Regions from separate parts of the Homo sapiens genome. Here region 2 is linked to region 1. The links come from fine-mapping of genetic effects on gene expression. Tissue or cell type: putamen. Region 1 holds a variant in brackets; the other region holds the start of a gene. All regions are shown on one strand. Distances are between the middles of the regions.

What was found. PIP is the estimated chance that this variant, and not a neighbour inherited with it, causes the effect.
Region 2: it holds the start of ANXA13, and the variant in region 1 is fine-mapped to the expression of ANXA13 in putamen (GTEx, PIP 0.91).

What each region holds. Positions count from the first base shown.
Region 1 is chr8:123,709,642-123,714,873 of GRCh38, reverse strand. ANXA13 (annexin A13) reads left to right here. Exons shown (of 11, transcript NM_004306.4): 2 at 2,121-2,196. Among named protein-coding and RNA genes, the nearest start is that of ANXA13, 25 kb to the left of the region's middle. The variant C/T (reference allele first, on the strand shown) is at 2,810.
Region 2 is chr8:123,735,391-123,740,622 of GRCh38, reverse strand. It overlaps ANXA13 (annexin A13), which reads left to right and starts at 3,230. Exons shown (of 11, transcript NM_004306.4): 1 at 3,230-3,303. The coding sequence starts at 3,289. All of the region lies in intron 1 of LOC105375739 (a long non-coding RNA gene), which reads right to left.

The DNA of each region.
Region 1 (5,232 bases):
TACCTGGAAGGCAGACTAGTAATGCCCACTCTTCCCTATGCATAATGAAGAAAGGTCTATAAACTGCCTGGCACACAGCAGGTGTACAACAATGTCAGTCCCCTTTCTGGCTTGTTTCAGGAACAGATGCTGCGAGATGGGGCATGCCCTCATGTTCCAAAAGGCAGGGAGGTTATAGGTGGCCCTGATGTTCCTTTCGGCTCTAGGAGTCTATGATTCTCCATTAACTAAAGCCTCAAGCCAACTCACCTTCAGCCCACAGATGTTAGCCAGGACACTTTGGATCGCAAGGATGGAAACCCAACTCATATTAACTTAGACCAAGGAAGTTTGCTAGCTAATGAAACGGGGAAGCCCAAGGACACAGGCGCTGCTGTGTCTGAGGATTTGTACAATGTGATTCTTTCTCTCTCTCCCTTTATGTAGTGGACAAAATGGGCACTAAGAGCCCTAGACTCACGCACTTTCACTGTAGCAGACTCAGCAGGAGGCAGACGTGTATCTCTCTCAGTATCTATGTATCCACCAAGGGAAAGACTCTAATTGACTCTAATCCTGCTTGGATTACATCTTCACTCCTGAACCAATCCTGATTGCCAGAGTCACAGGACACGTGCCTACATTGGTGACCAAGGGCAGGACAAAGGGGCTCAAGCCTCATGACTGACAGCCCCAGTGAGGCCACACAATGGGGGAAGGGGAAATAAGGAGAATAAGGATGCCATGCAGAGAAAGGCAACATACCCACTGAGCTGCATGTGGTTGACTGTTCACTTCCACTGGGTGCCAAAGGATATGAAAGCAGGGAGAGTTGAACTGCGGTGCTACTGCCAGTAGCACTTAAACCAGCCTTCACTGAAGGATGGAAAATATATGGACATGCCGGGCGCCGTGGCTCACACCTGTAATCCCAGCACTTTGGGAGGCCAAGGCAGGCAGATTGCCTGAGCTCAGGAGTTCAAGACCAGCCTGGGAAACATGGCAAAACCCCATCTCTACTAAAAATACAAAAAATTAGCCAGGCATGGTGGCGTGCACCTATAATCCCAGCTATGGGGAGGCTGAGGCATGAAAATCACTTGAACCCAGGAGGTGGAGGTTGTAGTGAGCTGAGATCGCACCACTTCACTCCAGCCTGGTTGACAGAGAGAGACTGTGTCTCAAAAAAGAAAAGAAAATATATGGACACATATCACTTAGGAAAAGCTCCATGAGAAAAGGCAAAGACAGGAAACTCAGGGTGTGTTCCTAGCTACCAGCTGCATAACTACAATTAACCTCACAGGTTAATTGCAGTTTTTAATAGTTATGTGTTTATATTTATGGTTACCTTCCATTTATGCAAGCAATACTGGGTTTCCATTTTTGTGCTCACAAAAATTTCCTTTTTAAGATAACTTTAAGTAAAAACAAATGTCAATTTAAAAGAAAATAATAAGCAAATAATAATTATAAGCAAACAATAATTTCCTTATTATTTAGACATAGGTAACTGTGGATGCAATAGTGCATGTATTGTGCCAATGACTGAAGTATGGGAAACAGCTCAATACACTATATAAACAGGACTTTACCTTCCCAAGGAGCACTAAAACCAAAACTGTGCTTTTACTGGTTCCTACAGTATCTCCAACAAACCAAATATGTATCTCTCATTGTATGGATGGCAAAGATCCAAGTCACCATATGAACCTGTAATAAGGTCCTAGAACCCTCAGCCTCTGACCTATTCCTTAGACATAGCTGTGTCTCATGACAAAGGGGGAGAACAAGCACTCCAGTACACTGGCTTACAGTATTATTCTTTGTTTCAGAGGCAGACACACAAAGGTGGGGTTGATATGAAAATCTCTCATTGCAGAGCTGGCCAGGATGATTGTCCTTGAGAACAGAGGGGCCCATTCTCCTGGTCATCCAAGGCCAGCTGGCCCCAAGGAGTACCAGCCACCTCTCTGGGGCCAGAGTCTCCCCAGCTGATTTCCGCATGTACCAGTGTGTGAAGTGACAGCTGGTCCCTGGTTAGGATGACTATTTGGTCCTCCAGTTTGCTACCGATTTTAGCCAGAGATCATTTAGGAATGCGTATATTGTCATCTCACCTTTTCAATTATTTTCTCCAGGCTAAAGCGAGCAGTCCTCAGGGTTTTGATGTGGATCGAGATGCCAAAAAGCTGAACAAAGCCTGCAAAGGAATGGGTATGAGAGATATTTTGTTGCTAATTTGCTTCTGAAGTTGATTAAACTTGGTCTCATGTCCAACTTCCCCATGATGTTAGGAAGCTGACATCTCACTATCTTGTGTATTCCGAGCTAACGCAAGTCAATCACTTCCACTAACCTCTTTATTAAAGTTCGCAAAATTACAGTAGGATCCTATTACTTTTCAGGATTCTATATAACAGCTAGGAGTTGGATATTGTGACGTTTAATTTGAACTTGAGGTGAGAGAAACTTCATGAGAAGTGCAGTTCATGCAATCCTGGTGTATTAGTCTGTTCTCACACTGCTAATAAAGACATACCCGAGGTGGGGTAATTTATAAAGAAAAAGAGTTTAATGGACTCACAGTTCCACATGGCTGAGGAGGCCTCACAAGCATGGCAGAAGACAAAGGAAGAGCAGAGGGACTTCTTATATGGCAGCAGGAAAGAGAGAATGAGAACCAAGTGAAAGGAGTTTCCCCTTATAAAATCATCTGATCTCGTGAGACTCATTCACTACCGTGAGAACGGTATGGGGGAAACTGCCCCTGTGAGTCAATTATCTCCCACCAAGTCCCTCCCACAACATGTGGGAATTATGGGAGCTA[C/T]GATTCAAGATGAGATTTGGGTGAGGACACAGCCAAACCAGCCAAACCTGGTATGATCTAAACCCCTCTGATCCCTTCCCTAGGAGATGGTGGGGAATTGAGTCTGATGAGAGCCGGATTAGGGACCTGGAAGCAGCATGTAGAAGTAGATCGGCCGGGCACAGTGGCTCACGCCTGTAATCCCAATACTTTGGGAGGCCGAAGCAGGCGGATCACGAGGTCAAGAGATGGAAACCATCCTGGCCAACATGGTGAAACCCCATCTCCACTAAAAATACAAAAATTAGCTGAGGGTATTGGCATGTGCCGGTAATCCTAGCTACTCAGGAGGCTGAAGCAGGAGAATCGCTTGAACCAGGGAGTCAGAGGTTGCAGTGAGCCGAGATTGCGCCACTACACTCCAGCCTGGGTGACAGAGAGAGACTCCATCTCAAAAAAAAAAAAAGAAAAAAGAACTAAATCAAGTGAGTAACTGGCCAAGATCAACCATCAAGGGTTGAAAATGGAGAAGCTGTTTACATCCTAAGGGTCAGTGCATGGCCAAGAGTGGGGGACTCTGCAGGAAGTCAAAACAAAGGTAGACCAGGGACCAGGGTGGGATGAGGGAGACAGCATCTAGGTCTAGGGCCATGAAGAGAGGCCCTGGGATCCAAGGAAGCCACTCATGACACAAGGTCTAGTCCCAGAAGCCTGGAAGAGGGTGACATCCAAAGCACAGATGGAAGGATTTCCCTTGAACAGGACAGGGAGGGAAGGTACTGAGACTGACAGCTGGAGTAGATGCCTTCATAGGTGTTGTTGGGGCAGAAATTGAAGGCATCCATGCCTGGTAACCTGACATTGCTCAGTGAGTGGTAGGTGAGGTTGTCTGCTAAAGAGAAGGGTTTGACAATGGAGTATGGGGCTTGAGTGGTGGCTTGAAATAGCCCTTGAGTAGCAGAGAAGGGGGAGACGACCAACAGAAGACTGCTGATACACACTAAGGGCCCCACTGAGTAGGGAGATCATGGTTTCTCATGGCTCCAGCCCACATGGTTGTGTGATTTTCCCCTGTATCCTTGGAGGTAGGACGGGAAAAATTGATTGACTCTGGGCTTGCTGATCAGGAGTTCCAGAACAACAAGCAAGTGAAATCATTGAAGGAGACAGAGGGGTCAAGGGGCAAAGTGGATTAATTTCCTAGATTTTCTTTTTTACATTTATTGAGAAACGGTTAAACTTTCAGGCATTGGACTAAGCACTTTATATACAAAATCTCATCAAGTTCTTACAAAAATCCATTTTCCAGCTGAGGAAACTGATGACCTGACATTTTAAGTAAGACAGCCAAAGTCACCAAGCCAGTAAGTGGGGAACACTGTGATTGAACATATTCTTGTCACTCACTCCAAATGCCACCAATTTAGAGACATCCTAGCTAGGGCACCTCAGCCACATGGCTGCAGTCCTGGAGGGGGTGGGGACAGACTGAGAAGACATTGCTCAGTGTCATTAACAATAGGTAGGAGCCATGTCAGTCCACAGAATGTTTTATTAAACTAATTTTTTGCTTATCGAGATATAATTTGCATACCATAAAATTCACCCTTTTGCAGCATGCAGTTCAGAGTTTTAGTATATTCACAGGATTTTGCGACCATCTCCACTTATTCCAGAACATTTCATCACCCCAGAAAGAAACCTCACACCCATTAGCAGCCCCTTCCTCCCTTCACCTCCAGGCAATCACTAATCAGCTTTCTGTCTCCACAGATTTGCTTATTCTGGACATTTCACATAAATAGAATCATATGATATGTGGCTTCTTTTACTTGGCATAATGTTTTACAAAAACAAGTGATAGGTTTTTTACATAGAAGTGGATTAGTAGAGATTTACTTTCCTAGAATGGGTGTCATGGTAGAATAAATATGGCCACAAATTTTTTGTATGGCTCCAGAGGAATAAAACTTGGATCCATGGTAGAAGTTCCAAGGAAACATATTTTGCTTTAATATAAGAAACTTGGCTGGGCGCAGTGGCTCACACCTGTAATCTCAGCACTTTGGGAGGCCAAGGCAGGTGGATCACCTGAGGTCAGGAGTTTGAGACCAGCCTGGCCAACATGGTGAAACCCCGTCTCTACTAAAAATATAAAAATTGGCCGGGTGTGGTGGTGCACACCCGTAGTCCCAGCTACTCGGGAGGCTGAGGCAGGAGAATCGCTTCAACCTGGGAGGTGGAGATTGCAGTTGAGCTGAGATGGCACCACTGCACTCCAGCCTGGGTGACAAAGAGAGACACCATCTCAAATATATACACACATACATATATGAAACTTATCTAGCCATAGAATGGTAGCCTTGCCCAAGAAATGTTGACAAGTCTGCAGGAGTTGGGATTGGGAAGATCTGGTAGGAAAGTAGTACAAGCTATGGCTACAT
Region 2 (5,232 bases), 26 kb before region 1:
GGCAAAAGGAGACAGAGGATAATAAAACAAAAATTCAACACTAAAGAAAAAATAATAGTGAGTGTTCAAAGCAGTGGTCATTAACCTACATCTTCTTCTCTTCTCCCTCATTCTGCTGTCAATTCCTGGAGGAGAGTTTGTCTTGCCCACCACTATATTTCCACACCAGGCACCCTGTGTGGCACCCAATAGTCTCCAGTCTCAATGACATCTTTTATTTTCTCCAATTCACAAAGCTCTTTCCTATGTTGAGCCTTAGCACAAGCTAAGAACATCCAATTTGGAGCACTTTCTCTTTTTAAATGATGAACTCCTTCTTTTAATTCACAGCTTCAGTGTGAGCTCCTTGAAAAGCCCTTTCTTCATTTAAAGCAAAGTACACACACACACACGTGTGCACACACACACATACTCTTATGTGCACACACACACACGGGTTACTCTTTATTCTAGCGTCCTGCTTATCTTCTCCATAGCCCATATGACAATTTATAATTATTTATTTGTTTGTTTCTTGTATAGAAATTTGACTGCAAGTTCTAGGAAGGGAAAATCCATATCCATCCTGTCCGTCTTTCCAACAATTAGCACATCCAAGGCACTCAACAGATAATAGTTTAAAGAACAAAATAATAAATATATAAAATCAGAATTTAATAAACCTATACAAAATTTTAATTCTATGTTACATAAGAAATTAGCTTTAAATAAAAGTGGCATCTTAGACCAATAGTGGAAAAGTGCATTATCCAGTAACTGTCTAGGATTGACTGAATAACAAAAACTAAGCTGACTCCCTTTGATATAGTTTGGATGTTTGTCCCCTCCCTATCTCCTGTTGAAATGTAATTCTCAATACTGGATGTTGGACCTGGCAGGAGGTGTTGAATCATGGGGGTGGATCCCTCATTAATGGCTCGGTGCCATCCCTTTGGTGATAAGAGAGCTCTTGCTCTGCGTTCACACATGATCTGGTTGTTGAGAAATGTGTGGCACCTCTGCACTTCCTCTCTTGCTCCTGCTCTTGCCATGAGACATACTGGTTCTCCATCACTTTCCTCCATAATTGTAAGCTCCCTGAGGCCCTCCAGAAAGGAAGCACCATGCTTCCTATACAGCCTGCAGAACCATATGCCAAAATAAAACCACTTTTCCTTATAAATTACCCAGCCTCCGGTTCTTTCTTTATAGCCATGAAAGAACAGCCTAACACACCCTTCCTTCCTTAATGTATGTCAAAATCAATTCCAGATGAATCAAAGATATAAGCCTTTGAAAATTAAGCCATTAAAAGAACTTGGAGGAACACTTATGCAAGAAGATTTAAGCATCTTAATGCAGAAATGGTTTTTCTAAGCAAGTCAAAAATAAAAGACTGATATATTTGAATACATCAGAGCTAATACTTTCTTCACATATATACCCTCAAAACAAACAAAGACAAAAGATAACAAACTGGGGAAAAATAATTGTTACACTTCATGAAGGCCTAGATTTTATTATAAATAAAGTGTTTTACAAACAAATAATGAAAATACTAATAACTCAAAAGAAAAATAAAGACCACAAACAAGCAAACCACAGAAAAAAATACACAAATGGCTTTAAAGAAATGGGATATACAATTTCCAGGATATCAAATGAAAGAAATGTAAATTTAATAAAACACCATGTTTTTATCTTTGAAGTTGGCAGAAATGACAAAGTTTGACAATATTTAGTGTTAGCCAATATGTAGGGAAAATCACACTGGTATATTCATATAGTGGGAGTGAAATTTTCATTTTTTTAAAGTAAGCCTCATGGATCAGCTGGTCTTTAAGAGTGGTCCAGCATTTTATGTCAGTGTGGAGGACAACTTGGCAACAGCTATCAGAATTTTCAGTGCACATAGTCTTTAGCCAGCAACTCTATTCTAAGATTTTATTCTACAGATAAGAAAGCACAACAAAGATGTGTATGAGATATTCATGCAAAAGATCAAAAACAATCTAAATGACCTTCAACGGTAGACTGATGAAATAAGGTTTGGTTCATATCCATAACAGTTGACTACATGGCCACTGAAAAAGAAATGTGCCAGTGTCAAATATCTCTTTAGTATATGAAATATACACTATATTAAGTGAAATAAGCAAGGCACAAAAAGACAAATATCACATGTTCTCCCTTATAACAAATATCACATGTTCTCCCTTAAATGTGGGAGCTAAAAAATTGATCACATGAAGGTAGAGAGTGGATAGATGGAGAAAAGAGACTGGAAAGGGTGAGTTGCGGGGGAAGAGGAGAAGTGGGTTAAAGGGTACAAACACACACTAAGATGGAAGGAATAAATTCAGTGTTGGATAGTAGAGTACGGTGGCTGTACTCAACAGAAATCTATTGTACTCAGGCAAACACTCTCAATACCCTGACTTGATCACTACTCATTATATGCATGTAACAAAATGTCTTATGTACCACATAAGTTTGTACAAATAAAAAAAGAAACATGTTGTAATAATCTCAGAAAAAAAAAGGAAAGACAAGAAATATGCAAGGCATGGAACAGAATACATTGTACAAACCCATTTGGTGAGGAAGAAAAGACAAGTTGGATCAAGATAAACAGAGAGGTAGGTAACTAGACAGGCAGACCGACGGACATAGCTGAATATGCATGGACCACTTCAGGAAGGACTCACGGAAAACCTCTGGGGGAAGGAAAAAGGAAGTCAGTAGGCCGACTTTTCACAGGACCTTTATGTATTATTAGAAACAAATTTACCATCTGCACATATTACTTTTTAAATTCAAAACTCAGTAAAATTTTTTAAATGATCTAGTGTAATGCAATGTAGCCTTCGAAAAATTCTCTGTAATAATAATAACAATGTTAGTAAAAAATAGTAATATTTTTCTATTTGGTTAATGCTTTCATTACTAAAAGGCATAATATTTTAAATGAACACCAGAATATGAAAGAATAACTCAACAATTCAGAAGTGAGGCAGGTTTAGTCTTTTAGGTGGGAAGAAGCTATTCAACTTTAAAAGCCTAAACTTTATTTATTAAGAAGTATATTATTTTAAAAACATGGGTACCAAGGAAACCTGGGCAGTCTAAGTTTATCTGTAGCTAGAGCCACTCCCTACCCATCCCCAACAATGTATTCAAATTCAGTGCCAAAAGTTACTTATTAAACACAAGAGATATTATGTCCGGGGGGAAAACTGTTGTAAACTTTGCCTGTAGGAGGACTGATCTCTTGATGAAATACAGAAAAACCATCTCAGAAAAAGGAAAATGGGCAATCGTCATGTAAGTACTCATTGCCTTTGGGAATTGGTTTTAATTTTGGTTAGCATGTGGAAGAATTTAAACTATAAAATCATGACTGATACTTGTATACTTTATCACTATGGTTACCCTTTAATATTGGTTTTAGCAACAGCATACCATGCTTTTAAAATGCATTGAGGCCGGGTGCGGTGGCTCACACCTGTACTCCCAGCACTTTGCAAGGCCAGAGTGGGCGGATTACTTGAGGTCAGGAGTTTGAGGTCAGCCTGGCCAACATGGTGAAACACTGTCTCTACTAAAAAAATTAAAAAAAAAAAAAAAGTTAGCTAGGTGTGGTGGAACATGCCTGTAGTCCCAGCTACTCAGGAGGCTGAGGCAGGAGAATCATTTGAACCTGGGAGGCGGAGGTTGCAATAAGCCGAGATTGCACCACTGCACTCCAGCCTGGACTACAAGAGTGAAACTCCGTCCCAAAAAAAAAAAAAAAAAAGCACTGGGGATATATTATTCCCTTATTGGCCAAAAATCTCTTAAGAGGGGCTAAAGAGAAAGAAGTATGTAAAATAAGGCAGTAAATAGTGCCTTGCAGAGAGCAAATGGTTAATATGTATCTGTAGAATGTATAACTAAAGCTGTTAGTTTGTAGCAAATTTGTATAAAACTTCATAAACTAAGCCCATTCAGAGTTATGTGGGAAAGATAGGTTCATGTTGCAAATATTAATAGACCAAGGTAAATACTCATGTAAGTCCACACAACTTGGATTGCAAGGTGAAAATATTCCATTATTATTTCTAAACATCCACATATTTGCAAATATCCATGGAATGGACTTAATAATTTACATTTCTTTTGAAATGTTTAGGCTCCTGAATAGTGTGTCTATAAATAGTTAATGACTAAAAACTGACTAAAACACTACCTTTTGGAACCAACTACACACAGGACAGATCAGAGTTGAATCTTGAATATTTTTTACATTGAAGTATATCTAAAGCTATTCCAATACAAATCTTAATAAGGTTTTGTGTACCTGCTGTAAATTTCCACAGCAAGAATGATATATTTCATGCACACTATGAGCAGAGAATAAAACTCCAAAACTTTCTGTAAACTGTTACTTTGTCTATAAGGTTTTTCCTTCGCTATATATTCAAGCTGCACTCAGATGTTTACAAACTTACAAATATATTCTTAGGAAAGGCATTGTTTTTCAAATCATCTACAAATAGCATTTTCATACCAGCAGAGATTATGAGCCATCCGTTCAGTGTATCTTTCAGAGAAACTGAAGCCTATTTTTCAAATATTTCTGATAGATGCAGAGGACCCCAGGAATAATCAATGGACCCTGCATTCACAGCTTAGGAGGATAATTTTGTCTTTTGAAAGTCAACCTAGGGAGCAGCTGGCCTTTAGGAGTGGACCAGCATTTTTATGTATTTTTTTTTAATCCTCAGAGCCAGTCGTACACCCTCTCAGAAGGCAGTCAACAGTTGCCTAAAGGGGACTCCCAACCCTCGACAGTCGTGCAGCCTCTCAGCCACCCATCACGGAATGGAGAGCCAGAGGCCCCACAGCCTGTAAGCACTTTATTTTCCCCCCAAATCATAGGTATGACCCCTGCTCTGTCATGGGGCCAATATGAGCCCCCAGTGATCTGTCATGTTGGACCCTCCACCAGCCACCAGCCATCATCAGGTGTGACTTCCAAGCAGGGAAATCTTTCCCTGCAAAAAGTTTGTTACTGTATTTACAGGTAATGTAAAAATGAACTCTTCTAGGGGCTTAGTTTCTGTTCCCAACAGTGTCTCATTAACAACTCCTTGAAATCAAGCACATGAGGCTACACCAGGACCACTATGACATTTCAGAAAATAGTAAAGGAACTCAACATGTGCACAAAGAATGAATACATGTAAAAAAGTAAATACAAAATCTTTTTAA